2 linked regions of the Homo sapiens genome follow. The protein of the gene in region 1 purifies or fractionates together with the protein of each later gene. This does not show direct contact. Each region holds a gene or a part of one and is shown in the gene's direction. Other genes may lie near its edges. The genes, in order: IDI1 and VWA8.

The links.
Region 2: the proteins of IDI1 (region 1) and VWA8 purify together in Homo sapiens (affinity purification with mass spectrometry; 3 studies listed by BioGRID and IntAct, with this or other methods). This does not show direct contact.

What each region holds. Positions count from the first base shown.
Region 1 is NC_000010.11:1,038,350-1,053,760, reverse strand, and holds IDI1 (isopentenyl-diphosphate Delta-isomerase 1), read left to right. Parts: upstream 1-4,641; 5' UTR 4,642-4,757; coding exon 4,758-4,897; exon of another isoform or gene 4,898-5,442; coding exon of another isoform or gene 5,443-5,497; intron 5,498-9,559; exon of another isoform or gene 9,560-9,589; coding exon 9,590-9,762; exon of another isoform or gene 9,763-10,251; coding exon of another isoform or gene 10,252-10,273; intron 10,274-10,367; coding exon 10,368-10,460; intron 10,461-10,998; coding exon 10,999-11,129; intron 11,130-12,256; coding exon 12,257-12,574; 3' UTR 12,575-14,342; downstream 14,343-15,411. UniProt on the Homo sapiens protein: Catalyzes the 1,3-allylic rearrangement of the homoallylic substrate isopentenyl (IPP) to its highly electrophilic allylic isomer, dimethylallyl diphosphate (DMAPP).
Region 2 is NC_000013.11:41,944,467-41,959,782, reverse strand, and holds part of VWA8 (von Willebrand factor A domain-containing protein 8 isoform a precursor), read left to right. Parts: intron 1-9,769; coding exon 9,770-9,847; intron 9,848-15,316. UniProt on the Homo sapiens protein: Exhibits ATPase activity in vitro.

The sequences.
Region 1 (15,411 bases):
AAGACCCTGACTCAAAAAAAAAAAAAAATCAGGCAATTAATAGCCCTAAAATGGCTACTGTTTCATAAAAGAATGAGTTGCACATCTCTTACTTTAAATCAAAACTAGAAATGATTAATGATTAAGCATGGTGAGGAAGGCATGTTGAAACAGCTAAGTCGTGAATGCAAAGGAAAAGTTCTTGAAGGAAATTTGAAGTGCTCCTACAGTGAATACACAAATGGTAAGAAAATAAAACAGCTTTATTGCTGATATGGAGAAACTCTGAGTGGTCTGTATAGATTAAACCAGCCACAATATTCTGATAAAGCCTAATCCAGAGTAAGGCCCTAACTCTCTTCAGTTTTCTGAAGGCTGAGAGAGGTAAGGAAGCTACAGAAGAAAAATCTGAAGCTATCAGAGGTTGGTTCATGAGGTTGAAGGAAAGAAGCTGTCTCTATAATACAAAAGTGCAAGATAGGCCAGGCATGGTGGCTTATGCCTGTAATTCCAGCACTTTGGGAGGCCAATGCAAGTGGATCCCTTGAGGTGAGGAGTTCAAGACCAGCCTGGCCAACATGGTGAAACCCTGCCTCCACTAAAAATACAAAAATTAACTGGGTGTGGTGGCACACGCCTGTAGTCCCAGCTACTCAGGAGGCTAAGGCAGGAGGATCACTTGAACCCAGGAGTTGGAGGTTGCTGTAAGCCAAGATCACACCACCACACTCCTGGGTAACAGAGTGAGACTCCATCTCAAAAAAAAAAATGTGCAAGTGCAAGATAAAGCAGCAAGTCATCTAGGAGATCTACCTAAGATCACTGATGAAGACGGCTTTGCTAAACAATAGGTTTTCATTGGAGTTGAAACAACCTTATTTTGGGAAAAGATGCCGCCCAGGACTGTCATAACTAGAGAGGAGAAGTCAAAGCCTGGCTTCAGAGCTCCAAAGGACAGGCTGACCCTTGCTAGGGGGCTAGTGCAGCTGATGACTTTATGTTGAAGCCAGTGCTCATTTATCATTCTGAAAATCCTAGAGTCCTTAAGCGTTATGCTAATTCTAGTCTGCCTCTGCTGTGTAGATAGAACAACAAAGCCTAGATGACAGCACATCTACTTACACAGTGTGGTTTACTAAATATTGTCAGCCCACTGTTGTTGAGACCTACTGCTCAGGAAAAAAAAAAGATTTCGTTTCAAAATATTACTGCTGATTTACAGTGCTCCTGTTCACCCAAGAGCTCTGATGGAGATATACAAGGAGATTCATGTTGATTTCATGCCTGCTAACACAACATCCCTTTTGCAGCCCATAGCTCAAGAAGTCATTTTGACTTTCAAGTCTCATTATTTAAGAAATACATTTTGTAAGGCTATGGCTGCCCGAAGATGTAACTGAATCACTGCACTAGCATAATAAAACATGAATGGATAAGCAGTTGCTTCTTGTGGATGAACAAAGAAAGTGGTCTCTTGAGATGGAACCTAATCCTGGTGAAGATGTGAACACTGTTGAAATGATAACAAAGGATTCAGAATACTCCATAGACTTAGTTTATGAAGTAGCAGCAGGGTTTGAGAGGATTGACTCTAACTTTGGAAGTTTTCCTGGCCGGGTGCGGTGGCTCATGCCTATAATCCCAGCATTTTGAGAGGCCAAGGTGGGCAGATCACAAGGTCAGGAGTTCAAGACCAGCCTGGCCAACATGGTGAAACCCAAGCTCTACTAATAATACAAAAATTAGCCGGGCATGGTGGCACACGCCCATAGTGCCAGCTACTCATGAGGCTGAGGTAGGAGAATTGCTTGAACCCAGGAGGTGGAGGTTACAGTGAGCCAAGATCGCACCACTGCACTTCAGCCTGGGCGAAAGAACGAGACTCTGTCTCAAAAAAAAGTTTTCCTGTGGTTTAAAAAAAATCTTTCATGAAAAGAATTGTCAATCAACGTGACAAATTTCATTATTGTCTTATTTTAAGAAACTGCAACAGCCACCCCAACTTTCAAGCACCACCTTGATCAACAGCCATCAACATTGAGGCAAAACCCTCCACCAGCAAAAAGATTATGACTCATTGAAGGCTCAGCTGATGGTTAGCAGTAAAAAATATTAACTTTAATCATCTCGACCATTCAGTACTCATCTAATATTCTCTATAACAAAATGGGAAATGCACATAAAGCACTTCTGCTACATGCTGAATTATGATTGTTGTCTCCAGGAAAAGAACTTGTGGGAACGTTTGAGTTGTAAGCTGAACTAACTAGCTGCTTTTTTCATGAAATACCGCTTTTACTGGAAAGAACTGACAGATAAACTGAGGTATTCAAACCTAGATATTTGGCAGACATTTTCGTGAAAATAAATATGTTCGTGCCACTTCAAGGAACATAATTCTCAGTACTTGTTGCCAATAATGTTGGAATTTTCATGCAAAAATTCAAATAAAAAACAAACTTAAAACCATCAAGAACTTGGTGACTTTATGTGGAAGCCAGTGCTACAATACTTTAGCTTCCCAATACTTAAAAACTTTTCTGATGAGATTACTAGTGATATTAACAATGTGATTGATATTGAATAATGAAATGTTTTAGCATTTGGAAGATCTGTTTAATTCAGTAAATCAGTATTTTCCAAATGACCAATGCATGACATTTCAACATCACGCACAGGAAAATAGGCATTCGAGGTACAGTCAAAAATAATGAGTTTTAATGTAACAAGTACAAAATGTCCATTGAAGTGGTTTCAAATTCCAAATAGTAATTGGAAAATCCACCACTCGTGTTTTGGGGTAGTAGTATCGAAAAAGAATAACCAAGATAATTTGAAAAGGCTATTAAAAAATACTTCTCAATTTTCAAACTGCATACAGCAGGTGCTCATTCATTTCTTTGTAACATTGATGAGAAAAAGACTCCCAGCCAGGGGCACTGTCTTTGTGGTGTTTACGTGTTCTCGCCACACCTGCATAGGTTTTCTCTGGGTGCTGCAGTTCTTGCCACATCCCAGAGGTGTGCACGTGAGGTGAACTGGTGTGTCTTCACTGTCCCAGTCTGAGTGTGGGTGTGTGAGTGGCCCTGTGATGGAATGGCGTCCTGTCCAGGGCTGGTTCCCTCTTTGTGCCCTGAGCTACTGAAACAGGCTTCAGCTACACATGACCCAGAACTGGAATAATTAAGTAATAATTATCTTTTTATTCATCTTTCTTAAATGTATGTATAGCTCACATTTATTTCAATGTTTAATATTAGAATACTTTGGCCTTTAGAAGCTTAGTGATTTTTTTTTTCCTTGGCCAGAAGTATGCTTTAGGAACTTAATCCTTATTTTTTAGCCTCTGGTAAAATTGGTTTTGCTATACGTTGTTTCACTTAAAAGTCCTGATTCCCAAGAACGCACTGACAGCAGTGAGGACTTGCTGCGCATGCGGGAGGCCAGATTTTCTTATCTGTGTGAAGCCAGACATGAAAGAGATCTGTCAACACATAAAACAAAATCAAAGTCTGTTTTTTGTCTGGAAAAGATTTTTAATAAAAATATAACTTATGTTAGTGTCGTGTGTTTTTTAAGTGAATATTTTAATATGTTTAATTTCTATGTTAGTAAATAGCAGTAGTAAACAACAGTGAGCAAAAGCTTTTAGGTGTCCTCAGTACATTTTAAGAGAGTGCAAGCGTCCTGTGACCAAGAAGTTTGAGAACTGGTGCCCACCAGGTTCATCTCACAAGTTCAGTATTTTAAATTCCACACAAAAGGTAGAGGAAATAGCTGAATTCGCTTCAGCTGCGCATACATTTCACGATTATTTAAAAGTTTAGAGGGCTAGGCGCGGTGGCTCACACCCGGAATCTCAGCACTTCGGTAAGCTGAGCCAGGTGGATCACTTGAGGTCAGGAGTTCCAGACCAGCCTGACCAACATGCGGAAACCCGTCTCTACTAAAAATACGAAATAAGCCGGGCGTGGTGGCGCATGCCTGTAATTCCAGCTACTTGGGAGGCTGAGACGGGACAATTGCCTGAACCCGGGCGGCGGAGGTTGCTGTGAGCGGAGACTGCACCATTGCACTCAAGCCTGGGCAACAAGAATGAAACTGTCTCAAAAAAAAAAAATTTAGAACGTAGTCATGTACCTCGAAAGCGAACACTCCCAACATAGCGTGGAACACCCCACACCCCCGGCGACTTTGCTCCGCCTTGGTCCCGGTCGCAGACACCGCAGAAAGGCCATCGTTCTAGACATACGAGAACTCCCCGTGCAGCCAAACGCTGTAGTCCCAGCGGCGGAACTCGGGGGGGGGGAGGGGGGGGAGTGCCCAACCAGCCAGTCAGCAGTGACGTCCCGCCTTTCCTCCGTTTCCATTGGTCCAGCCATGCGGAGGTCGCTCCCATGGGACGCCGAGCTTCCGGCTGCAGGGCTTGGCGCCCGGGCGCTTTCGGATTGGGAGGGCTTCCTCCATGGAACGCGAGCCTCGAGACGTCTGACGTTAGGCACCGTTCGCAGCGCCTCGGGCTCGCACGGCAGGATCGAAAGCGTGATTGGCTGGCGGCGTCTGTGGTCTCGGGCACCGCCCAGTCGCGGGACGCTGCCTCTGCGGAACTGGGGGTGGGGCGTGTTGACCCCCTTAAAGGCGCCAGAGCCCGCGGTCACGGCTCAGGTTCCCGGTGCTTCGCGCGTCTGCCGTTGTCACAGGCCAGGGAGGTGGCACCACCAGGCGAAGCTTGGCGAGATTGTGTCGTCAAGCGCGTACGGGCGCCAATTGGCCGGGCGATGTGGCGTGGACTGGCGCTGGCGCGAGCGATTGGCTGCGCGGCCCGGGGGCGGGGCCAGTGGGCGGTGCGCGCCGCAGACTGTGCTCAAAGCGGGCGCCATCCGGGACCGGCGGTTGTCTGTGGCCGGAGGCTGATCAGGTACTGTGGACGGGCGGCGGAGTTCGGGAGACAGGGGCAGGGCGGCATCGGGGAGCTGCGGGACGGGGCGGGGAGGAGGCCCGAGGTCTGAGCCACCCGTGAGGTCTCGGCGCGGAGGCCTGGACAGCTGGGGGTGGCGGCGTTGGTCTCCCGAACTGGAGGGAGGCCGGGCCTTCCCGGGCTGTGGTGGGCGCCCGCGCCCCGTGGAAGGCGGAGGCGTGAGTCGGGGCGTCAGAGACGTTGCCATTCTTTGTCAGCGGAAAAGATCGTCGTCTGCGCACAGTCACCTGAGGTTTAGGAACTCGTGGAACTGGAAACCGAGTCGCAGGAGACTAAGAGTTGCGAGTCTCCCCTTAGAGAATTCAGAAACAAGCGTAGACAGCATCGTCAGAAACACGAGCGTGACGACACCGGCCTCCCCGTGCCGAGTCCACGCGTGTGACGCGGGTGCATACACCTGCGTCCGTGCAAGAGGGTGACAGCAACACACTCAAGGCGCTTCTCCTGGGAATGGAGCAGGAGAAGAGATGGGGAGCATCGCATAGATGGAACTAGACCTTTTTCTTGGGTTGGATGATGTGTTCCCGCGTCTACTACATGGTATTCTTTAAACGCATAAATAGACGTATTCATTTTATCTTGTGATTATGCAGCTTAGCTTTAAAATCTGAATTCTGAAAATCCTGAAAGAGCAATTGTCATTACAGCTGGGCGGTGGTGCACGCCTTTAATCCCAGCACTTTGGGAGGCGGAGTCGAAGGCTGCAGTGAGCCGAGATCGCGCCACTGCACTCCAGCTTGGGCGACAGACATAGCAAGACCCAGCCCCATCCCCCCGGAAAAAAAGTCATGTCAAAAAGTCTAGTAATTATGTAGTAACGAAACCTATCTTAGTGATCACCTAATATACAGTTGGCCTACTGTATCCTTGGGGTCCATATCCATGGATTTAACCAACTGCACATTATAAAATATTTGGAAAAAAATTTCATCTGTACTGAACATATACAGACTTATTCTGTAAACAATACAGCACAACTATTTATGTAGGATTTACATGTTTTAGATACTATAAGAGATCATCTACAGATGATAATTTAACGTTCGGCCCGCATCACTTAACAGGGATACTTTGGAGAAGTTCATTGTTAGGTACTTTCATCATTGTGGAAGCAGAGTGCGCTGACGCAGACCTAGACAGTGGAGCAGCTGGGCTGTGTGGTGTAGACAGACGGTGGAGCAGCTGGGCTGTGTGGTGTAGACAGTGGAGCAGCTGGGCTGTGTGGTGTAGACAAAGGACCAGACAGTGGAGCAGCTGGGCTGTGTGGTGTAGACAGTGGAGCAGCTGGGCTGTGTGGTGTAGACAGTAGACAGTGGAGCAGCTGGGCTGTGTGGTGTAGACAGTGGAGCAGCTGGGCTGTGTGGTGTAGACAGTGGAGCAGCTGGGCTGTGTGGTGTAGACAGTGGAGCAGCTGGGCTGTGTGGTGTAGACAGTGGAGCAGCTGGGCTGTGTGGTGTAGACAGTGGAGCAGCTGGGCTGTGTGGTGTAGACAGTGGAGCAGCTGGGCTGTGTGGTGTAGACAGTGGAGCAGCTGGGCTGTGTGGTGTAGACAGTGGAGCAGCTGGGCTGTGTGGTGTAGACAGTGGAGCAGCTGGGCTGTGTGGTGTAGACAGTGGAGCAGCTGGGCTGTGTGGTGTAGACAGTGGAGCAGCTGGGCTGTGTGGTGTAGACAGTGGAGCAGCTGGGCTGTGTGGTGTAGACAGTGGAGCAGCTGGGCTGTGTGGTGTAGACAGTGGAGCAGCTGGGCTGTGTGGTGTAGACAGTGGAGCAGCTGGGCTGTGTGGTGTAGACAGTGGAGCAGCTGGGCTGTGTGGTGTAGACAGTGGAGCAGCTGGGCTGTGTGGTGTAGACAGTGGAGCAGCTGGGCTGTGTGGTGTAGACAGTGGAGCAGCTGGGCTGTGTGGTGTAGACAGTGGAGCAGCTGGGCTGTGTGGTGTAGACAGACAGTGGAGCAGCTGGGCTGTGTGGTGTAGACAGTGGAGCAGCTGGGCTGTGTGGTGTAGACAGTGGAGCAGCTGGGCTGTGTGGTGTAGACAGTGGAGCAGCTGGGCTGTGTGGTGTAGACAGTGGAGCAGCTGGGCTGTGTGGTGTAGACAGTGGAGCAGCTGGGCTGTGTGGTGTAGACAGTGGAGCAGCTGGGCTGTGTGGTGTAGACAGTGGAGCAGCTGGGCTGTGTGGTGTAGACAGTGGAGCAGCTGGGCTGTGTGGTGTAGACAGTGGAGCAGCTGGGCTGTGTGGTGTAGACAGTGGAGCAGCTGGGCGGTGTGGTGTAGACAGTGGAGCAGCTGGGCTGTGTGGTGTAGACAGACAGTGGAGCAGCTGGGCTGTGTGGTGTAGCCAGTTGCTCTTAGGCTGTTTTTCCTGTTGCTTCAGGCCTAAATTTGGACAGTGTGTGACTGTGCTGAATAATGTGGGCAGTTGTAACACAACAGCAAGTATTTGTGTATCTAAACATAGAAAAGGTGATGTGTTGTGCTCCGATGTTACAATGGCTACAACATCATTAGCAATAGGAATATGTCAGTTCTGTTATAATTTTATGGAACCACTGTAGTATATGCAGTCTGTAGTGTACCGAAACACCATCATGTGACACATGTATGTACACAGTGGATATACACAGGTGATCTGCAAATATTATGCCATTTTATATCTGAAACTTCAGCATCCTCAAATTTTGGTAGCTGTGGGAGGTCCTGGAACTAACTCCCATATATACCAAAGGATGACTGTATATAAAACTAGCCTATAGAAGTTGGAAATCTTTCTAAAATTGAGGCTAACTCTGAAGTTGACTTCCTTTTCACATTATTTTCCCTCTTGATTTGTTTTAATCATTAACCTTATTTCAGATTTTTTGTATTAGATATCAATATCTCCATCATCACTGACTCCTGACACACGCATTCACACACACACACACACACACACACACACCCAGACCCTATGTGGGTCTAGAACTTTGTATTAAGTAGCTGTTTAAACACTTTGTGTACATTCTGCAGTATGCTTGAACTCTGTTGAAAGTATTTCAGTGGTCCCCGTGTGGTGGCTCACTCCTGTAATCTCAACACTTTGGGAGGCCAAAGCAGGCAGATCTCCTGAGGTTAGGAGTTCGAGATCAGCATGGCCAGCATGGCAAGACTTCGTCTCTACTAAAAATACAAAAATTAGCCTGGCGTGGTGGTGCACGCCTGTAGTCCCAGCTACTTGGGAGGTCAAAGCAGGAGAATCACTTGAACCCAGGAGGTGGGGGTTGTAGTGAGCTGAGATTGCACCATTGCATTCCAGCCTGGGCAACAAAACGAGACTCCCTCTCAGAAACAAAAAAGTATTTCAGTAAAATCTATGTATTTGAAATAGAGTCACATAGAAAGTAGAGCACATGGGATCTTCAAAATATATTGGGTAGAAAAATCAGAAAACAAAAATTATTATTCATTCAGAAATAAAGGAGAAGAAAAAAGGGAATAAAAAACTTCAAGGTCAGACTATGTAAAGGTGCCCTGAAGGATACAAAGATTAGAAAGCTTAGACGCTGCTGGATACAGATATGTAAAAGTGTGAGTCAGAATACTGAAAGTACCCTAATAAGTGCTTTACGTTGTAATCACATGGGAGGGATAAATGGGGGTTCAGAAAATTAATGTTTGATGCACTAAGGTAGGAATGGGCCAACTATGGCCTATAGGCCAAATCTGGCCTGCTGCCTGTTGTTACGTCCTGTGAGCTGAGTGTTTTTCTCATATTTAAACGGATGGAGAAGAATCAAAATATTTTGTGACACATGAAAATTAAATGTAATTCAGTGTCCATAAATATTGGCATGCACCCACACTCAGTTTACATACTGCCCAGTTCACCTATTGCCTGTGACTATTTTAGTGTTACAGAGGCAGAGTTCATACTCTCTGGCCCTTCACAGAAAAAACTTGCCAAGCACTGCCTTAAAGCATCTATTGAATATAACGAATTAAGTCTTCTCCTGTTTATCTAGAATGATATCAGCTAAGTACTGTCCTGGGGGAAATTGACAAAACTCATACAAATAATTTTTCTGATAACCCAGGAGCTTGGGTTGAGAAAAACTGGATTAAGTCTTACTGTGACATTGGTAGAAAGGTTATTGAATGTCTGGCACGAGTTGTGCCTTGAAAAAATGGATTTCAACCAAGATTGGCCTGTGGCAATCTTGAGCAACTATGCAGAGACAGGCAGTGGGAAAAACAATTCAGGATGGCAATGGGAGCACATTCTAGAGATTACAGAAGCTGGTGTAGAAAAGCAGGATGAAAAGTTAGGTTGGGGCCAAAAACCAGAGAAGAAAAGTACACTGGAAAAAGGATTGAGTATCAAGTGCTGCAGAGGATCTCAGAGGTCAAGAATTTAGAGCGGAACGTTGAGCTTGGCCTTCAGGAGCATGACTGTGATAAAAGGCCAGCTGTGAAACCTGTAGGAGAAATGATGACCCAGATAGTGCTGAGCAGCCGGCTGGCAGCGTTCTTGGGGTCCCTGTGGGGATGCAGAGTGGTACAACTGCAGATGGGGAAGCAGCATCATTATTAACCTGTGTTTATATGACATTCAGAAAAATATATGATGGCCTTTCTTTCTCTTTTCCTTTAATATTAGTGTTCTAGAACAGATCAGACATTTTGTAATGATGCCTGAAATAAACACTAACCACCTCGACAAGCAACAGGTTCAACTCCTGGCAGAGATGTGTATCCTTATTGATGAAAATGACAATAAAATTGGAGCTGAGACCAAGAAGAATTGTCACCTGAACGAGAACATTGAGAAAGGTGCTGCTTTGAAACAGTCTTTCTTGTAAAGCGATTTGTGTAGGCATTTCCGATTTGCTGAGAAGAGCACTCTGTTCAAGGAAGTGCAGTCTTCAGTAATACCGTATTTTCTCGTTGGTTCCAGTTCGTTAAATAGTGTGGTCATTAGCATCTGCTTTGCTGTCTTCCTGTTACAGCGATTTCTCTTCACTTCATGCCTGTTACTCGGCTTCTTCAGAGTTATTCTGGATTCATAGAAGAGGGACTAGCCCTGACATACAGCAGCAGCCTAGCCTCTAATATTTCTAGAGAGTGGAGAGAGGCGGGCACCATGCAGGGAAGCATGTGCCTTCACCACTTTCCGAGAACTGAATGTCCTTGATAGGGAACTTGACTGCCGGAAAGGGGCCACCAGCATCACCATTTCCTTCACTCGACGGCCAACTTCCTTGCCCAGTGCAGAGCTCTTCCTCACCATAGCCATGCAGAGACTATGCATGTGGATAAACCATGGGAAAAAGCAAAAGCAGCAGCAAGTTACTAATGTTATTCTGAACTGCAGGGAGAGAATTTGGCAAATAACTGGTACTTAAGGCTAAAATAATTGTTATTTCTTTTGCTTTCAGGATTATTGCATCGAGCTTTTAGTGTCTTCTTATTCAACACCGAAAATAAGCTTCTGCTACAGCAAAGATCAGATGCTAAGATTACCTTTCCAGGTTAGTACACTTTTAATGTACAATATTGTGTTTGTACATTAATTTGACTTTTTATCATTCTGAATTCTTGGAGCCAAGGTCACAAAGGGAAATCCTGTGAATGGCATAATTTTATATTCTGCATAAAGTGAGTTTACACAATGAGTGCAACCTAATACAACAGCAAGAAAAAATAAGAACTAGTAAGCAATTGGGCAATATGTATAATTTACATATTTATCTTTAATCTGTATTATCTACACTTTGATCTTTTTTGGTTAAAGAAGTATTAATAAGGAACCTACCTACAAATGTAGTCTGTTTCACAACATAATTACTGATAGCCCATTATAACCAATTTTAAAATCCTTAAAATAATTACTGATAGCCCATTATAACCAATTTTAAAATCCTTAAAATAATTACTGATAGCCCATTATAACTGATTTTAAAATCCTTAAAAATCATTTCATTTTTCAGTTACTTATAAAACTTTTTCTTGATCTTTCAGACCTACTTTGAAGAAAAGTTGATCTGTCTCTGTATTACCATTTTCCAGGTTGTTTTACGAATACGTGTTGTAGTCATCCATTAAGCAATCCAGCCGAGCTTGAGGAAAGTGACGCCCTTGGAGTGAGGCGAGCAGCACAGAGACGGCTGAAAGCTGAGCTAGGAATTCCCTTGGAAGAGGTAACCAGCTCTCCTACACAACCATACAAGCTGAAACCTAAACATACTATAAAAAGGTTTTTAATAAAATTTTTAAATTCAAATGTAGTTCTCTGCTTGGTAACCTCCGGAGTTATGAGTTAGCCCCACAAACCATCTTGAATAAAGATTATTTAAATTTTAATTTCTTAATATCACTTGTCAAAACTTAGCTCAATACGGGGATGGATTGATCTGTTAAGCACTATATAAGGTTGAATATTTCTATAATTGATCAAATCTAAGATGAGTATTTTCAAGTGTTACAGCTCTTGTAGAATTTAACTGACAGGTTTTCCAGTTCTCACCTAAAACTCCCCACCTACAAAAAAGGTGAAGATTTTCTGATGGAAACTCTTAGGAATATGAACCATAAATCTCATTGGTTTAATTGAAATCATTTTTTTTCTTGGAATTGTCCCCCTTAAATAAGACCTGGATAAATAAAGTATTTCTTATCTATATTTTCCAAAAAGCAATTTTAAAATATGAAAAAGAAAAATGTCGGGCCGGTCGTGGTGGCTCACGCCTGTAATCCCAGCACTTTGGGAGGCTGAGGCAGGTGGATCACGAGGTCAGGAGTTCGAGACCAGCCTGACCAACATGGTGAAACTCCGTCTCTACTAAAAATACAAAAACTAGCTGGGCATGGTGGGGCGGCACGTCTGTAATCCCAGCTACTCAGGAGGCTGAGGCAGGAGAATCGCTTGAACCTGGGAGGCGGAGGTTGCAGTGAGCTGAGATCACACCATTGCACTCCAGCTTGGGTGACAGCAAGACTCCGTCTCACAAAAAAAAAAAAAAGAAGAAAAAGAAGAATGTCACATTTCTAGTTTGAGTGACTGCCCCTTTTTTTAACATTAAAAAAAAAAAAACTTATCTGATCGGGAAAAAAACGCAAACACTTGAAACTAATGATGTAATCATTTTTCCATATATAATATTAAGATTTCCATATACCATTGATAGGAGATTAATGCTTTAACCAAGTTCTAATCCTAAAACTATACTGCTGTTCGAGATATCGCTGTAATACAGTGAGCTAATTTTAGATTTTTTTTGTTACGGTGGCCGATGTTTTAATTACTTTTTTTTTTTTAATGTCTTAGGTTCCTCCAGAAGAAATTAATTATTTAACACGAATTCACTACAAAGCTCAGTCTGATGGTATCTGGGGTGAACATGAAATTGATTACATTTTGTTGGTGAGGAAGAATGTAACTTTGAATCCAGATCCCAATGAGATTAAAAGCTATTGTTATGTGTCAAAGGAAGAACTAAAAGAACTTCTGAAAAAAGCAGCCAGTGGTGAAATTAAGATAACGCCATGGTTTAAAATTATTGCAGCGACTTTTCTCTTTAAATGGTGGGATAACTTAAATCATTTGAATCAGTTTGTTGACCATGAGAAAATATACAGAATGTGAATATGTAGGTAAATGATTACAGAAAAATTTATCTGCTTAACAAACTTAGAATGACTTTTTCCTTTTAAATTTAGTTCTATCATTAATTTATCATTAAATTTAGTTCTATCATTTGGTACTATCATTAATGTATTATATACACTGATACTTTAAAACTTGTGTGGAAAAAACTAACTTATAATTTTGTATCACACACCCTGGATATGTGTTCTGTTTCTAAGCGACATTTGTGAGAGATTATTGTAAAATGAGAGCGAGCAAATAAAACTTAATTTAATCTTTGCAGATACATACTTATGGGAAATTTGAACAAATGAGTGAAACTCTGTTTTTAGTAGGCTGTGATAAACATTTCCGGAGCACTTGCAGAGGACTTGCTATTTGCCAGGTGCTTTATGTATCATTAAATTTTTCTCATAGTTCAGAAAAATGTGCAAAGGAAACTATTGTCTCGCTCCTTCAAAACAGTCTTAATTAACTTTCATATTAGCAGATTAAACTAGCAGAGCAGGTTCAAGGGAAATTAAATGATATGGACCCTAATTTGTATCATTCTGAGTTGATTGTGTGGTTTATTCATTCTGGAAACATGTTGATACTTACAGTCAGCCACTGCTTTTGATAAGTGATATTGATTAGGTTGAATCTTCTTGTAAATAGTATTTACCAGTTAGCAAAGTCTGTGTTTTCAGAATTACAGTGAGCACAGAGGTGTTCATAAAATGGGAATTGAGTCCCACTCGGTAAGAGTTGCTTAAACTTGACACTGTTGACATTTGGGCTGGATAAAACCCCTGTGGTGGGGTCTGTGCTGTGCATTGCAGGATGGTGAGCAGCGTCCCTCTCATGTGACACCCACAGTTATGCCGGATGTTGCCAGATGCCCCTAGGGGACAGAGTCAACCCCCAACTGAGGACCACTGTCCTACAGAGTCAGGAAATATTGTAGGGAGAAAAAAATAACAACAACAAAGGCCTGTGTTAATGTTAAATAGATGAGATTATGGAATGTGTATATTAATGTTAAAAATTGTACCTTGATCAATGTACTTTTTATAAACTTGCCATAGATATCTCAGATTTGAAACCTCAAGACAGATTTATTATTCTTAAATGCTGTATGATAATGAAGAAAAATAAAAATTTATTTCTTGCAAAGTTAAATGTTTGTTAAATTCAATAGAATGACTCATTTATGGTTAACTTTGGGCAATTTATAATTTCAGACAAGACTGTTTAGCAAGTATTTTATTGAAAAGTAAAAAAAATTGCAATTTAATACTGTGTTTAGTTTGTTAAAATTTTGATACACTAATAGGATATTGCCTGTATAGTTTCCGTTGCATTTATAATATTGTTTCTAATTTTTTTAGTTTTATTTTCTAGGAAGTTTTAGGCTGAAAGCCACATATAATTAGTTATGTGATAACTATGAGTTGCCATGGCTACTGAATTGGACATGGGACCCTTAGACTGCTACCCAGCACCTTGTTAAGTACTTAGCAAGAGTTAGATACTACTGTTGTAATATTACTAGGATGCCATCCAGAAAATGTAAGGAATGTCTTTTGACCTGATAAACTCCTTAGAACTCCTTCATCTTTTATAAAGAGGAGTATCCCTCTCCTAGATATAGCTGCTTCTGACCCCAAAGGCAGATGTGTTGGTTTTCAACTAGAAAGCTAAATGGTACCTATAAATTTTTTTTTTCTTAAACTGTTTTAAACTCTTAATCTTCAAAATATATACTTCTTTGATTCTGGTCAAACCATTGCCAACTCCTTTAAGGACAAAGTAGAGGTGGCCTTCTAATAATTGCTGATTCTGTTTCCCTACCTATATTATCAAGAGAACAAGACCAAAACAGAAAATGGTATAATAGGAAGGAAGGCACATTTTCTTCTTACTTGGCCCTGGCACCTGGGGACAAGTCCAGGTCGTACCCGCAGTGCATCCCTGTGGGAACTGCCCTCCACCTGCTCCCTGGGGACACGTCCAGGTCGTACCCGCAGTGCGTCCCTGTGGGAACTGCCCTCCACCTGCTCCCTGGGGACAAGTCCAGGTCGTACCCGCAGTGCGTCCCTGTGGGAACTGCCCTCCACCTGCTCCCTGGGGACAAGTCCAGGTCGTACCCGCAGTGCGTCCCTGTGGGAACTGCCCTCCACCTGCTCCCTGGGGACAAGTCCAGGTCGTACCCGCAGTGCGTCCCTGTGGGACCTGCCCTCCACCTGCTCCATGGGGACAAGTCCAGGTCGTACCCGCAGTGCGTCCCTGTGGGAACTGCCCTCCACCTGCTCCCTGGGGACACGTCCAGGTCGTACCCGCAGTGCGTCCCTGTGGGAACTGCCCTCCACCTGCTCCCTGGGGACACGTCCAGGTCGTACCCGCAGTGCGTCCCTGTGGGAACTGCCCTCCACCTGCTCCCTGGGGACACGTCCAGGTCGTACCCGCAGTGCGTCCCTGTGGGAACTGCCCTCCACCTGCTCCCTGGGGACAAGCCCAGGTTGTACCCGAAGTGGGTCCCTGTGGGAACTGCCCTCCACCTGCCCCTTAGGGGGTGCTTGTGCAGTGGTTTCATCCTCTCACTTGGATCTGTCCGTTGGACCCTCACTAGGGTTGGGAGTTCCTCATGGGATGAGGTACTCTAGATCCCCTCTTGACAGATTTTCTTTTTATTATTTCAGATACACCTCTTCTTCACCCTTCCTCTCTGGGTGCTTTTTCAGCCCTAAGTATGTACTTACACATTTTATAACATTTTATAGCATGAACTGAAGTGTGTATTTGTGTGTATTCAGGTATCCTGACAGCTTTCTGCTTTACAATTTTCACACATT
Region 2 (15,316 bases), on another chromosome or scaffold:
AAAATACAGAAAAATTAGCCGGGCGTGGTGGCGGGCGCCAGTAATCCCAGCTACTCCGGAGGCTGAGGCAGAAGAATGGCGTGAACCCGGGAGGCGGAGCTTGGAGTGACCGGAGCCACTGCACTCCGGCCTGGGCGACAGAGCAAGACTCCATCTCAAAAAAAAAAAAAAAAAAAGCATATTTAGGTCCCACGTATTTCGTTTTATTCATTGAAGACATACACCACCCCCGTCCCCCACCATAGTGTTGCAATTTCAAATTTTACTTTTTGTTTTTTTTTTTTTTTTTGCTTTTTCTCAATTACTCTCACTTCTGGGCTGTTTATTCATTTGTTTTTTACATTTTTTGTGTGTTCTTTATTTGTTTTTTGCTCCTTTGCCCTAGAAGGCAGAGGTCAAAGGTGGAAGTATAGCATAAACTATAGGTTGGGTTTTGGAGTTAAACAATTTGGGTTGGAATCCACTTATCCACTATCTAACCATGGGTCGTTGAGGGTAGGTTACTTAACTTTGTGTCCTAGTTTTCTTAACTGTAAAAGGATAAGAAGAATATATCTATTATGGTTGTTGTGAGGATTTATTAATTAATATAATCTGTGGCACATATTAATGCTCAATAAAAGTTAGCTTTTTTATTCTTAGTATGTACAGTTTTAGCTATTTGAGAATTATTCTGTTTCCTTGCCTTTAGAAGACATGAAACCAAGTTTGTTTAGATTCAGGACTGTTCAGACTATCTGGGTAGGCAGATTTAGCCGAGTGAATTGACTTGAACTTTTTAAAAAACAATTGTTCTTTGTACATGGATAATACATGTTGATTGTAAAAACACATGTGGGTGTGAGTTTTTAAAGTCTGTATTATATACGTATTGGTAGATAAGTTGTAAATGTCCTCAAATTTTGTTATAGCCAGTAAATCAAAGTATAGGCTTTGCTTCAAATGTGAGAGTCATGGACATATTACAGAGAACATACTATCTTCTTTAAATCAGTCATTTACTCTGGCAGGATCAGACCAAAAAGAGGTATTTTTTGAGGGTGTGAGAACTGTAACTGAATGCAGCTGGGAACCCACCAGAGATCTGGACTTGAGTAAGAGCAGTTGTGAGCCAGGTAAATGGACAGCACACTTTTGGCTACTCTGAGGCCTGAGAGTAAGGCTATCAAGATGGAAGTGTCCCATTTTGAATCAGAGATCATACATGGACAAGTGTAAAACTACAAATAGCAATAGGCCATAATGGATTACATCTTATGTTGGGATGATGCTCTCAGCTGCATTCATACATGTGACCAGTAACTGATTATCTCCTCTCTCTGTAATTGACATTGCTTCCTAATAGTTTGAAAAAAGAACAACAAAGTTCATAAATAATATATTTAAGTTATATACTGCTGTTATTTCTCCTGGAGTATTTGTTTTGTTTATCTATATATTCGTTTGGTGCCTGCCAACACTTTGTACCTAGTAAGCATTCAGTGGCTTATTTTGTGAAAGTTCATACAGAGAAGGAGCAGGAGAGGCTGGAATTGTCGTTTGCTCTCAAGAGAGGACCTTTGTTAAGCCTGATAAGCAGAAGGAAAATAGGTCATTTATGTTAAAAACAAAACAAGCAGATAAACTCAACCCAAACCCACTGCTTTTTATCCTGTGCTGTCAGATAGTATAAGTATCTATAATTGTAAATTCTTTATATCTCTTTATACTTCCATTAAAATTACTGTCTCTTGGTTTTAAGAGCAAAGAGGTTAACAAGGATATCTACTGCAGAGAGTTTTCAATAAAGATTATTGTAGTGTTTTTACAGATGGAGCCAAGCAAGTTGTTTCAGTGGGACTCTGATGTTAAATGGATTCAAATATACTATAGATCAAATGATAAACCTAGAAACATAACTGTATAAATATATCATGACATTTTGGTGCTTTCCTTTAACGCCATTATTATTAAAGGGATTCACAGTTTTTTCTTTATGACTCTTGTATATGAAGTAAATTTGTTTATAGAAATACCCTAAAATACTTTTACACAGCAATCTATGTTTATTATAGAAGAGTGATAAGTACAGATTCCCTAAAACATGATCCTCCCACCCAAATTTATAATTATCAACTTTTTAGCATTAATCCTATCAGATTACATATATATGTATAATTATTTATTTATTTATTTTTGAGATGGAGTCTTGCTGTGGCACCCAGGCTGGAGTGCAGTGGAGCAGTCTTGGCTTACTGCAACCTCCACCTCCTGGGTTCAAGCGATTCTCCTGCTTCAGCCTCCCAAGTAGCTGGGACTACAGGTGTGCACCACTGTATTAATCTGTTCTCACACTGCTATAAGGACATGCCAGAGACTGGGTAATTTATGAAGAAAAAGAGGTTTCATGGACTCAATAGTTTCGCATGGCTGGGTAGGCCTCACAATCATTGTGGAAGGCGAAGGAGGAGAAAAGTCACGTCTTACATAGCGGCAAGTAAGAGAGCTTGTGTACAGAAACTCCCCTTTATAGAACCATCAGACCTCGTGAGACTTTTTCACTACCACGAGAACAGCACAGGAAAAACCTGCCCCCATGATTCAATTACCTCCCACTGGGTCCCTCCCATGACACATGGGGATTATGGGAGCTAGAATTCAAGACAAGATTTGGGTCGGACACAGGCAAACCATATGAGCCACCCCAGCTAATTTTTGTATTTTTGGTAGAGATGGGGTTTCACCATGTTGGCCAGGCTGGTCTCGAACTCCTGACTTAAAGTGATCTGCCCATCTTTGCCTCCCAAAGTGCTGGGATTACAGATTTGAGCCACTGTGCCTGGATGATATGTATATTTATACAGATACATTTTTTTAAAGAAATGGGATCATGTATGTTTTATAATTATTACATCCATTATTGTGAACATATTAACATGGTAATAAATATCATTGTACATGATTGTTTAAAGTAGTTATTAAGTTTATATGTTTGTCCATATAATTTATTTTACTGTCTCATTCTTGCACATTCATGTTGTCTAAAATATATAAACAATGCAATAAACATCCATCTACATGAATTTTTGTTATTTTAAGATTATATCCTTGGGCTACAATAGGATTAGATAGAAATAACTTTGAGGAGGGGAAATATAGAACTGTGGCTTCAACTGAGAAATACAGTGTAAAGAGGAAAGAACTATACTGTGGTTTTGGTCTAAGTTTTGTATTTATCAGGTATTGAACCTTGGGGAAATTATTAACTACTTTAAACCTGCAGCAGGTTATTTTGACCCTGAGGATATTCTGACCCCATTGTGTATTCAAGAATTTAACAGAAAGGCTCAGAACAATGGTAAGCTTATAAATCATTAGGCAGATCTGCATTAGGGGCACATAGACTAGTGTGGGAATTGCTGATATATTTAGTTTTCTCTTGGGTCTAAGTTTAGTATATATAAAAATGATGACACTAACCCAGTAGTTCTCAACCCAAGGTGATTTCTCCCCCTCAGGGGACATTTAGCAATGTCTGGAGATGTTTCTTTTTGGTTATCAGAACCAGGAGGGAGGGGTGCTACTGGCATCTAGCGGGTAGAGGCCAGTGATGCTGCTAAACAGTCCATGACACACAGGACAGCCCCTCACAACAAAAAATTATCTGGCCCAAAATGTTCATAGGGCCGCTGTTGAAAAACCCTCATGAAACCAACTTCTTTGTCAAAGCTACTGTTAGAAACTTTAGACTCACTAAACTTAACAGAATTTAAGCACAGAACAATTTGTGAATTGGGCAGTCCTCAGAACCAGAATAAGCTCAGAGAGCTCCATTCTGAAACGTGAGCAGGCAGCATTTATGGACAGAAAATGGAAGTCAGGTACGGAAACAGCTTACTTGGCTATAACTCAGTGTTTGCCTTACTTGAACACGGTCTCATCAGTTGGCAGCCTGTGGTTGACCCAAGCTCAGCTGCTCAGATTGGCTAAGACTCATCTATTTGTTACCAAAGTATACTCCTAAGTTCCGGTTTCAGTTAATTTACATACAAAGTTATGTTGCAATTCATTACATAAGGACTCCAAGTACGGAGGCATCCTTAGACCAAATTTGGTTGAATTTAACAATTTGCCCCTTTGGTTAGCTTCTCAATTTTGACAGATTCACTGAAACTTTGGGCATTGTTGCCACTCTCTGTCACCAACTTAATGGACTTACTTGGTCTCATTATGGAATTTAAAAGCCATGATGTCATATCAGTTGAATAATTCTTTATGTTCTTGCTGTTCTGGTCAAAGTGAGACCATTGAATGCTCAATGAATGGCTGCATACAAACATTTAAGACTTGAGAGGATATGGTGCACCAGAAGGGCTATCATGAAGAATCTCAGGATAATAATAAAGACTGTAGTGTACTTCTTAACAGGAGCCCCTGTGAACTGAACCAATCAGAAATCCAGCAAGGTTCAGGCACTTTAGACACTTCAATAGTATTTGAGTCTAGTTCAAGTAAACCCACAGTTTACATGAAGAAAGGCATACATTTGCTTCTTTTGCCTAAATTATGTTACCTGTTGTCTTATAAGTATTCTTATTCCCCTTTAGAGAGTAAACTACCTCACTTAAATCATTATAGATGGCTTGACTTATAAGCACATTAGTAGGTGGGATGTTTTCAAAGGAGAAAACATTACAGCTTAAAAACAATACTTAAGAAAAAATTTAAAATTATAATTATTCATTTGTCAAACATTTATTGAATATCTGGTAGGTTTCAGGTATTGGGGATAAAATGATGATTAAAACTTAGGCCTTGCACCAAGAAAAAAAGAGTCCTGTAGACTAAACAGTAGTCTTCAAAAATTTTTCTTATTTATCTGCTAGGAGGATTTTAAAAATATGTATCCCTTTGAACATTTTTAGGTTAATAGCTAAAGTTTTCCTGGTAAGTTTAAATAGTTGCAAACGATGACATTTCCAGTATGTTGTAAATATTGGCATTTAAAAGAAAAAATATTACAAATTCTGAGTGTATCTTTTAAGTGGAAACAGAATATTCTAGTAATTTAGTACAAATTCTGAGTGTATCTTTTAAGTGGAAATAGAATATCCTATCTCTATTTTGGAAGTAGATAAAAAGCTCTTCTTTAATTGTTAGAAAATGTCTCTTATCTCCTTGAATTTGTATTTCCATTACAGAAGCATAAATCAGATCCTGTGCTAGCAGAAAGACTAATGGAGTGATCAATTTGTGCTAGAGGAAAAGTTAGGGAAGGTTCAATGGGGAGATGAAGATATTTCAGTAGTAGTTGTGTAGAGGGCAAGTGGTGTGAGAGAGATGTGGAAGGTCTTCTAGGCTGAGGAGATAAAGTGTTAGTCACTGAGATAGGAATACAAGAGGTGGAGCTGGTTAGAGGTGGTTAGGCGCACACAATGGACAATATAGAATTCTGTTTCTGTGTGTTTGTTGAGTTGTCTCTGGAATATCTAGGTAAAGTCTCCAGTAGGCTACTGGCAGGTATGAAACTCAGGAGAGAGATCTGAGCCAAAATAGACATTTAAAGAATTAGTTGTATATGGTGTTTGAAGAGTACCCTTAACTGAAAAAAAAAAAAAGGTTGTATAGAGGTCAGAGTTGGGACATTGGTATGGATTAAATGACTGAGGAAAGTGTAGTGTAGTAACAGAAGATGGCCAAGAACATCAATGTTTGAGGCAGAGATGGCAGATGCCTGGTCCATATGAATGTCATAACTTTTCCCTTTTGTCTATTGCAGATGTGGCTCATTGATCACCACCCTGTTTCCCAATGAGTCCAATTTCCGTTGTGATTTATTTTTTGGATTTTTTAAGAAGCCTGTTGCTTGATTTCCAAATGTTTGGGGATTTTCCAGTTACCTTTTTGTTACTGATTTCCAGTTTAATTCCACTGTGGTAAGAAAACATAATCTTTATGACTTCCATCCTTTAATTTTCTTTTTTAATTTTTTTTGACACAGAGTTTCACTCTTGTTGCCCAGGCTGGAGTGCAATGGCGCTATCTCGGCTCACTGCAACCTCCGCCTCCCTGGTTCAAGCAATTCTCCTGCTTCAGTCTCCCAAGTAGCTAGGATTACAGGCATGTGCCAGCCACCACGCTCAGCTAATTTTGTATTTTTAGTAGAGATGGGGTTTCACTATGTTGGTCTGGCTGGTCTCAAACTCCTGGCCTCAGGTGATCCACCCACCTCGGCCTCCCAAAGTGCTGGGATTATAGGCACCAGCCATTGTGCCTGGTCTCATCTTTAAATTCCTTGAGACTTGCTTTATGGTCCAGCCTATAATTTATTTTGGTGAATGTTCCATGTGCATTTAAAAAGGATATGCATTCTGATCATGAGGAACCAATTACAATACTAAAAAGTGCTTTATAAAATACAATATTCAGTTGATAGGTTGAGAAAATAAAAACATACTTGCAGTAATACTTAAATAAATAATAAATAGAATATGCATTCTGTTGTTGGGTGTAGTGTTCCATAAATGTCATTTAGGCCAAGTGATTAATAATGTTTTCCAATCTTCTCTTTCTTTACGTCTATACTTGGTCTTTGCCAGAAGGCTGAGAAAAAATTATCCTTATCCTGTATCCTTCTTTATTTTTTCCTACTTCTTCCATTATTTACCAAGAGAGCTACTTAAAGCTATTAATATCTAGATGTGATTGTGCATTTTTCTATTTCCACTTTTAGTTCTGTCCGTTTTTGCTTCATGTTTATTTCCCAGCTCCCTCCCTGCCAGGTCACCATTATGGGTTTGCTGTGTTACCCAGAAGGAGGCTTCCTAACACAGTGACCCTCTCTGCTTGCTCTCTCCCCTTGCCCCTTCAGGCCTAGGGGCGGTAATGACTTTCTGTTATTGCTAGTCCTAGGATACTGCACCATCTTTTTTGGTTTCCGTAAACTCTGCTATACCTTTGTAAATAGTTCCCTTTTTGTACTCTCCTCAGTTACTCAGTTTGAATGTACTGTCTTTCAGAAATGTGAGGTATGAATTTTACTTTTTTTAAAAAAAAAATGGACAGCCAATTGTCAAGTTACCATGAATTTGTATAGTCTGCCCTTTTTCTAGATTATTTATTAGAAGGATGATGTCGGTCAGCTCTAACACTCAGGGAATGTTTGTAATGAGAACCTGTGCCTGAAAACGTTTTTCTTATGTTCAGATTAATTACTCAGTATCATTTTGTCAGGAGGCCAAATAATTACAGTCTTTTCAGGAAGTGAAATAACATTTGTAAAGACATCCTATTTGAAAATACTGTAACTATAATTCTTGAAACTACTCTGTAATAAAAGCCAGTAGATAATATCACTTATATTTGTAAGCAAGCTTATCTTTTAAAAGAAAAGCTACTGTAGAAAGTAGCTAATTTATAGGTTCTTTCCTGCATTAAGGAAAATAGGGCGAGATGACCAGTCAACCAATACCTGGCAGTAACTAAGATTGTACTATATGAGGCACTGCTGACCACCTGTTTTTTGAGGGTGTTAGAACTTAAACGACCAAATGATCTCAAACATGCATTAGAGATCATCTGGAGGGCTCATTGTAACACCGATTGCTGGACCTTAGGGTTTCTAATTCAGTAGGTCTGAGGTGGGGCCTGAAGATTTATATGACTTACAAGTTCCCAGGTGACGTTGATGCTTTGAGAATCTCTGTGATAGATTGCGTGAAGACAAAGAGTTAATTGGACAGGGGAGGAAAAGGGAGCGGTGCACGGGTTATGGAGGAGCTTTGCAGGCTTTTGAATTTTGGTCCTCATCATCTTTTGCCTTGCTTTTTTCTGGCTGCCAGTTTTGGACCTAGCAGGGATTTAGCTTTGTGTGTAGTCCTTATCTTCCTCTCTCAATTTACCACATACCTGTAATAAATTTCTTTATCTGTTAAAAACTCTGTTATGGATTTACAAATTTTCTCATTTGTAAAATTTCTGTCTCATAGGATTATTTTGAGAATGCAAAAAATACTTAGAAGGTAGTAAGCATTCAACAAATGTTGGCTATTGTTATTAGTACCATGATTTAAGGCCTTAGTGTTCAAGGTATCTTGCTAGCTTTAAACTGGCAGTGCTGAAAGATGAGTTTTGCACGACTACTTTTTTGGAGTGTCTCTGAGCCCTTTCCAAATGAAATTCTAGATGCAAATGGTATCACCATGCCTATTTTGCTGTTAGAGAGAGCACAGCGGGGAGAGATTATTCAGTTTAGTCCTCGGCTTTAGAAGATCACTCGGAAATTAAGGTTACATTAAAAAATAGAACTGTATAGAACTTACTGAAAACTTTTGCCTGCTTTTGCTTATTTCATGTAGGAATTCTTGGCTTTTATTTTTTATTTATTTGAGACGGAGTGTCGCACCGTTGCCCAGGCTGGAGTGCAGTGGCGTAATCTTGGCTTGCTGCAACCTCCGCCTCCTGGCTTTAAGCGATTCTCCTGCCTCAGCCTCCCAAGTAGCTGGGATTACAGGTACGTACCACCACGCCCAGCTAATTTTTGTATTTTTAGTAGAGACGGGGTTTTACCATGTTGGTCAGGCTGGTCTCTAACTCCTGACCTCAAGTGATCCGCCTGCCTTGGCCTCCCAAAGTGCTAGGATTACAGGCGTGAGCCACTGCACCTGGCCAGTTCTTGGCATTTATGCCACTGGGGCTTTATTCCTTTTATGCACCTAGAAATGTTGAAGTTTGAGGATATGTTGCTGGATAATTTGAAACTGTATGCAGTAAAAATACGGGTGTACAAAGATATGTAAAAAGGTTGAGGATCTGTGTTAAAGGTAACACTCTATGGGCTGGGTGTGGAGGCTCACACCTGTAATCCCAGCACTTTGGGAGGCCGAGGTGGGCGGATCACTTGAGGTCAGGAGTTCAAGACCAGCCTGGCCAACATGGTGAAACCTCATCTCTACTAAAAATACAAAAATTAGCCAGATGTGGTGGCACATACCTGTAATCCCAGCTACTCAGGAGGCTGAGGCAGGAGAATCACTTGAACCCAGGAGGCGGAAGTTGCGGTGAGCCAAGATCACATCACTGCACTCCAGCCTGGGTGGCAGAATAAGAGTCCGTCTTAAAAAAAAAAAAAAAAAAAGGCTGAGTGTGGTGACTCATGCCTGTAATCCCAGCACTTTGGGAGGCCAAGGCGGGCAGATCACGAGGTCAGGAGATCGAGATCATCCTGGCTAACATGGTGAAACCCCGTCTCTACTAAAAATACAAAAAGCTAGCTGGGCATGGTGGCAGGCGCCTGTAATCCCAGCTACTCTGGAGGCTGAGGCAGGAGAATGGTGTGAACCCGGGAGGCGGAGCTTGCAGTGAGCTGAGCTTGCACCACTGCACTCCAGCCCAGGTGACAGAGTGAGACTCCATCTCAAAAACAAAAAAAAAAAAAGATTTTACTCTATGGATACTTTGAATGATCTTAAACAAAATGCATTCTTCTGTATTGCTTTTGCCTATATTAATGTTGCTATTCATGAAATAAAGCTTGTTGATGTATTTTATCATGTTTTTGTTTGTTTGTTTGCTAACACATTTAAAATGTGAATTGCACTGATGCCTCACTTCTCCTTTATACATATATACTTTGGATAGAAGTTTTAGAGCATAGTGCTTGACTTATAGACAGCTGCGTAGTACATTTCTGTAACATCCCTCTCTGTAGGTCAGGACAAGCATTGTTGCATAGTCTATGGTTTTCTCGTTTGTCTCTTATAATTATTCTGTTTTTAAAATCTCTTTTTAGGTGATACAGTTAATATTGGAGATGTATCCTACAAGTTGAAAATTCCTAAGAATCCAGAACTTGTGCCACAGAACTACAGTAAGAAATATTTATTAATATATGAATGAATAACTTTTAACTTTTCATTATAGGAATTTTCAAAGTTATTTAAAGCTAGAGAGAATAGTATAAACCTAATGATTTTATCATCCAGCTTCAACATTTATCAATATTATGCCAATCTTCTTTTAACTGATTTTTGTTCTGGAGTATTTAAAACCTATCCCAGACATCCTATTACTTCACCCATCAATATTTCAGTAGAAACATTTATTTTTCTCACATCCTACTGTTTCTTTTTTACCTGGAATAAGATTTACATATAATGCACAGAACTTTTTTTTTTTTTAATTATACTTTAAGCCCTGGGACACATGTGCAGTACACGCAGGTTTGTTACATAGGTATACACGTGCCATGGTGGTTTGCTGCACCCATCAACCGGTCATCTACATTAGATACTTCTCCTAATGCTATTCCTCCCCTAGCCCCCTACCCCCTGACAGGCCCCAGTGTGTGTTGTTCCCCTCCCTGTGTCCATGTGTTCTCATTGTTCAACTCCCACTTATGAGTGAGAACATACAGTGTTTGGTTTTCTGTACCTGTGTTAGTTTTCTGAGAATGATGGTTTCCAGTTTCATCCATGTCCCTGCAAAGGACATGAACTCATCATTTTTTATGGCTACATAGTATTCCATGGTGTATAGGTGCCACATTTTCTTTATCCAGTCTATCATTGATGGGCATTTGGGTTGGTTCCAAGTCTTTGCTATCGTGAACAGATGCACAGATCTTAAGTATTTATTTTGGTTGGTTTTGACAATTTTATAAACCTGTATAACCACCAAGATTACATTAATCATCCCAAATGTTCTCTTGTGTTCCTACCCCTTTACCCTGCCCTGGAAATCACTGTTCTTTTTTTTTTTTTTTTTTTTTTTTTATGATGGTAGATTAGTTTTGCTTGTTCTTTAGCTATATATAAATAGAGTCACATGGTATGGTTGTATGTGTGTATGTATTTTTTTTCTCATGAAGAGCATTAATTTGAGATTCATCTATGTTGCTGTACCTATCAGTTTGTTTTTAATTCCTGAATAATGTTCCATTGTATAAACATACCACAGTTTGTTTATCCATTCTCCTATTGATAGACATTTGGATGGCTTTCATTTGAAGCCTGCTGTGAACATTCCTGTACAATTCTTGTAGTTATCAGTTTTTACTTCTGTTGAGTAAAAATCTAGGAGTTGAGTTGATATGTCATACTATAGATGCCTGTTTAACTTTTTAACTCACTGCCAAACAATTCTCCAAAGCAGTTGTACCATTTTACCTTTGACCGACAGTGATGTTCTACATCCTTGTCAGCATAGTCTTTTTAATCTTAGTCTACCAGGTGTGAAAAAGTAACTCATCATGGTTTTTGGTTTATAACAGTTTTATTGAGATATAATTCATATACCATAAAGTTCACCTTTCCATATTGTACAATTCAGTAATTTTAGTTTATTCAGAGTTGTACAACCATACTGTTATCTAACGTTTTCATCACTCCATGAAGAAACTTTATACTCATTAATAGTTATTTCCCATTTTCTTTCTTCTCTCTCCCCCACCACCCTCCCAGCATTTAGCAACTACTAATATACTTTCTGTTTCTATAGATTTGTCTATTTTGGACATTTTATATACATGGGATATGTAGCCATTGTATCTTGCTTATCTTAGCATAATGTTTTCAAGGTTTATTGATGCTGTAGTTCATTGCTTTTTATGGCTAAATTATATTCCATTGTGTGGATATTCCACATTTTGCTTATCCTTTCATCAGTTGATGGACATTTGGATTGTTTCCACTTTCGGACTATTGTGAATATTGCCACTCCAAGCATCCATATGCAAGTTTTTATATGGACATATTTTCAACTTTCTTGGGTTTTACCTAGAAGATAAATTGCTAGGTCACATGGTAACTCTATGTTTAACATTTCAAGGAATTACCAAAATGTTTTGTTTTGTTTTTTTTTTTTTTTTTTTTTTGAGACAGGGTCTCACTTTGTGGCCCAGGCTGGGGTGCAGTGGTGCAATGTCGGCTCACTGCAACCTCCCCCTCCCAGGTTCAACCTCCAGGTCCTCAGCCTCTCCAGCAGCTGGGACTATAGGTGCAGGTTACCATCCCCAGCAATTTTTGTATTTTTTGGTAGAGATGGGGTTTCACCACATTGATCAGGCTGGTCTCAAACTCCTGTCCTCATGTGATCCGCCCACCTCAGCCTCCCAAAGTGCTGGGTTTACTGGCATGAGCCACTGCGCCCGACCACCAATATGGTTTTCAAATCACCTACACCATGTTACATTCTAACTAGCAATGTGTGAGGATTCTAGTTTTTCCACATCCTCACTAACACTTGTTATTGTTTGTCTTTTTTATTACAGCCATAGTCAGACATGTGAAGTGACATCTCATTGTGGTCCTGATTTGTATTTCCCTAATGACTTGCAATCATTATTTGCCCAAAATCATGTCACTTCTTTTCTCAAAATTCTTTAAATGAGTTTTTAGTATTTTGGGAACAAAGGTCCATCCTTAGCTATTAATTTCTTGATCTAATCTTAGTCTCATCTCATGCCACTCTCCTCTCCTATTCTTTGTTCCAGTCATTGGTCATGATATAGAATAGCTTTTTGTTCACTCTTCAGATTCTTCCACTAGACTATGTGCTCTGTTAAAGAAAAAATAAATCAATGATATGTGTTAAAGCCGGGTAAGGAAGACTTTATTCAGGACTGTCACTATGAGTCTTGCAGTGGGGGAGAAAGACTGGGCTCAACCCCCAATGCAGCATGGGCAAGTGGTAGTTTATAGCCAAGGAACAGTGTGGGAGTTGGTGGATAGAAAATTGTTAAGAGGAAATGTCAGGGTTAAGGGAGATTCTGGCTAAGCCAACCTAACAAAATTCTTGCTGACGACAGGCTGGGGTGATCAGACATCACCTGGGGGATTGTAGAAGATGAGGACTCTGATCAGCTATCAAGGGTGATTAGATTATGAGGATGGGCGGGTTCTGGATAAATTGTTTTAATGGCGTTCTTTTGCTACAACTGGATTTTACAAGGAAGTACACAGGTGTGTCTAGGAAAAGGTTTAGAAACCTGACTAAAGTTTGGGCAAGAAGAGAATCTTTGTCAGCTTCTTGAGGGAGAATATGTCACTTTCATCTAACCCAAGGTTCCATTGACTCTACCCCCTAAATGCCTCTGCAATCTGTCCTTTCCACTCTGGCCCACTTTTTCTTTTACTACTCTTTTTTTTTTTTTAATTATTTTGTTAGTGGTCATCCTAGGGATTCTAATTAACACTTTAACCTAAAACAATCTTGTTTAGATTAATGGTAACTTAGTTTCAATAGTATATAAACTACTCCAATGTAGCTCTGTTCCCTTCCAGCTCCTCAGTGCTATTATTGTCATACAAACTATATCTTTATACATTAAAAGTTTATCAGCACAGTTTTATAATTATTGCTTTATGAAGTTTTTAAAATCAGGTAGAAGAAAAGAGTTACAAACAAAAATAGGCTTACGTTGTCATTATTATTTATCTATGTAGTTCCCTTTACTGATAATCTTTATTTCTTCATGTGGATTTGAGTTACTGTCTAGTGTGCTTTCATTTCAGCTTAAAGGAAGGATGCCCTTTAGTAAGTATCTTCTAGATGGCAGGTTTGCTAGTGGTGAATTATCACTTTTTTTTTTTTAAATTTGGAAATGTCTTCATTTCTCCTTTGTATTTTGAAGGATAATTTTACTGGAAATAGAATTCTTGGTTGACAGGTTTTTTTTTTTCAGCACTTTGAATATGTCTTCTTACTGTTTGTGGACTTCCTAGATTTTGAAAAGAAGTCAGTTATCAATCTTAACAAGGATCCTTTTTATATGATAAGTCAGTTTTTCTCTGCTATCAAGATTCTCTCTTCAGCTTTTTGATAGTTTGACTGTGGATGTGTCTAAGTGCAGATTTCTTTGAATTTACCTTGTTTTGAGTTTGTTGAGCTTCTTGGATGGGATGTGGAAATTAATGTTTTTCATCGAAGTTGGCAAAATTTTGGCTATTATTTTTCATTATTATTTATTTATTCTCTTTTTTCTCTCTCCTTCGAGGACTCCCATTATATTTGATAGATTTGATGGTGCCCCACAAGTCTGTGAGACTCAGTTCATTTTTCTTTATAATTTCTTCTTTCTGTTCCTTAGATTGGATCATCTCAACTGACTAATCTTCAAGTTTGCTGATTCTTTCCTCTGCCTGCTCACATCTGTTGTTGAGCCCCTCTGGTTAATTTAATCAGAGTTTTCAAGTTCAGAATTTTTATTTGGATCTTGTTTTATAATTTCTCTTTATTGGTACTCTGTTTCATGAGACGTTGTTGTCATACTTCTTTAGACATGATTTCTTTTAATTCTTTGAATGTATTTGTGGTAGCTGATTTAAAGTGTTTTTCTACTTAGTCAAATGTCTGGTTTACTCAGAGATAGTTTTTATTGACTCCTTTTTTCTGTATGTATGAGCCATACTCTCCTATTTCTTAATTTCTTATAATTTTGTTGTTACTGAAAGTAGACATTTTAAATAGTATAATCTCTCCTTCCCAGGCTTTGTGGTTGCTCCTTGTGTTGCTGTTTTTTTTTTTAGTGATGTTCCTAGTCTATTTCTTTAAAGTCTGTGTTCTTTGTCATGCCTTGTTAGCTTAGTGGTCAGCTAATGTTTGAACGGAGATTTCTTTAATGCCTTGAATCAATAAGTCTCTTGGCTTTTGCTGAGAGTCTGTGTGTGCAAGTTGGACATGACTTCAGTGCTCCATAGGTAGCTTACAGTTGTGTCTCAACCTTTTCTTTCTGCTTGTGTGGACCCTCAAGATTAGCGGAAGGTGAGAGAGAGATTAGGCCCTTCTCAGGATTTTCCTGAATATATGCATGGCCTTCCAGATTCTTAGGCATACACTGAAGCTTTTCAAAGCCTTCTGCAAACATCTCATTTTCAGTTTTTGTTTCTGTCTTTAAAGTTTTTTGGTTGTCCTCTTGTTAGCTCCAACTGGTTTTGCTGCCTCAGGCAGCTGTGATGTTAAACAATTGTTGATTTTTTTTGACAAATGCCCCGAGTTAGTGCTGTTTGCATACAGTAGCTCTGAGTACATCAAATAAAGACAAATTCTAAAAATGGAGCATTTCAGGGAGCTGCCAGACAGGTCAAGTAGGGATAATTTTTTGGGATTGAGGCTTTTGAGGAGCTTCTGTATAGTTCTGTTCACTTCAGTGACTTCCAGGCTGCTGGTTTTCACCATGATTATGGACAGTTTGTTGTAAAACAATTGGGCTCACGCCTGTAATCCTAGCACTTTGGGAGGCTAAGGTGGGATGATCGCTTGAGGCCAGGAGTTTGAGACCAGCTTGGGCAACATAGTGAGACACTAAAACCCTGTTTCTGTAAAAAATAAAATATTGTTT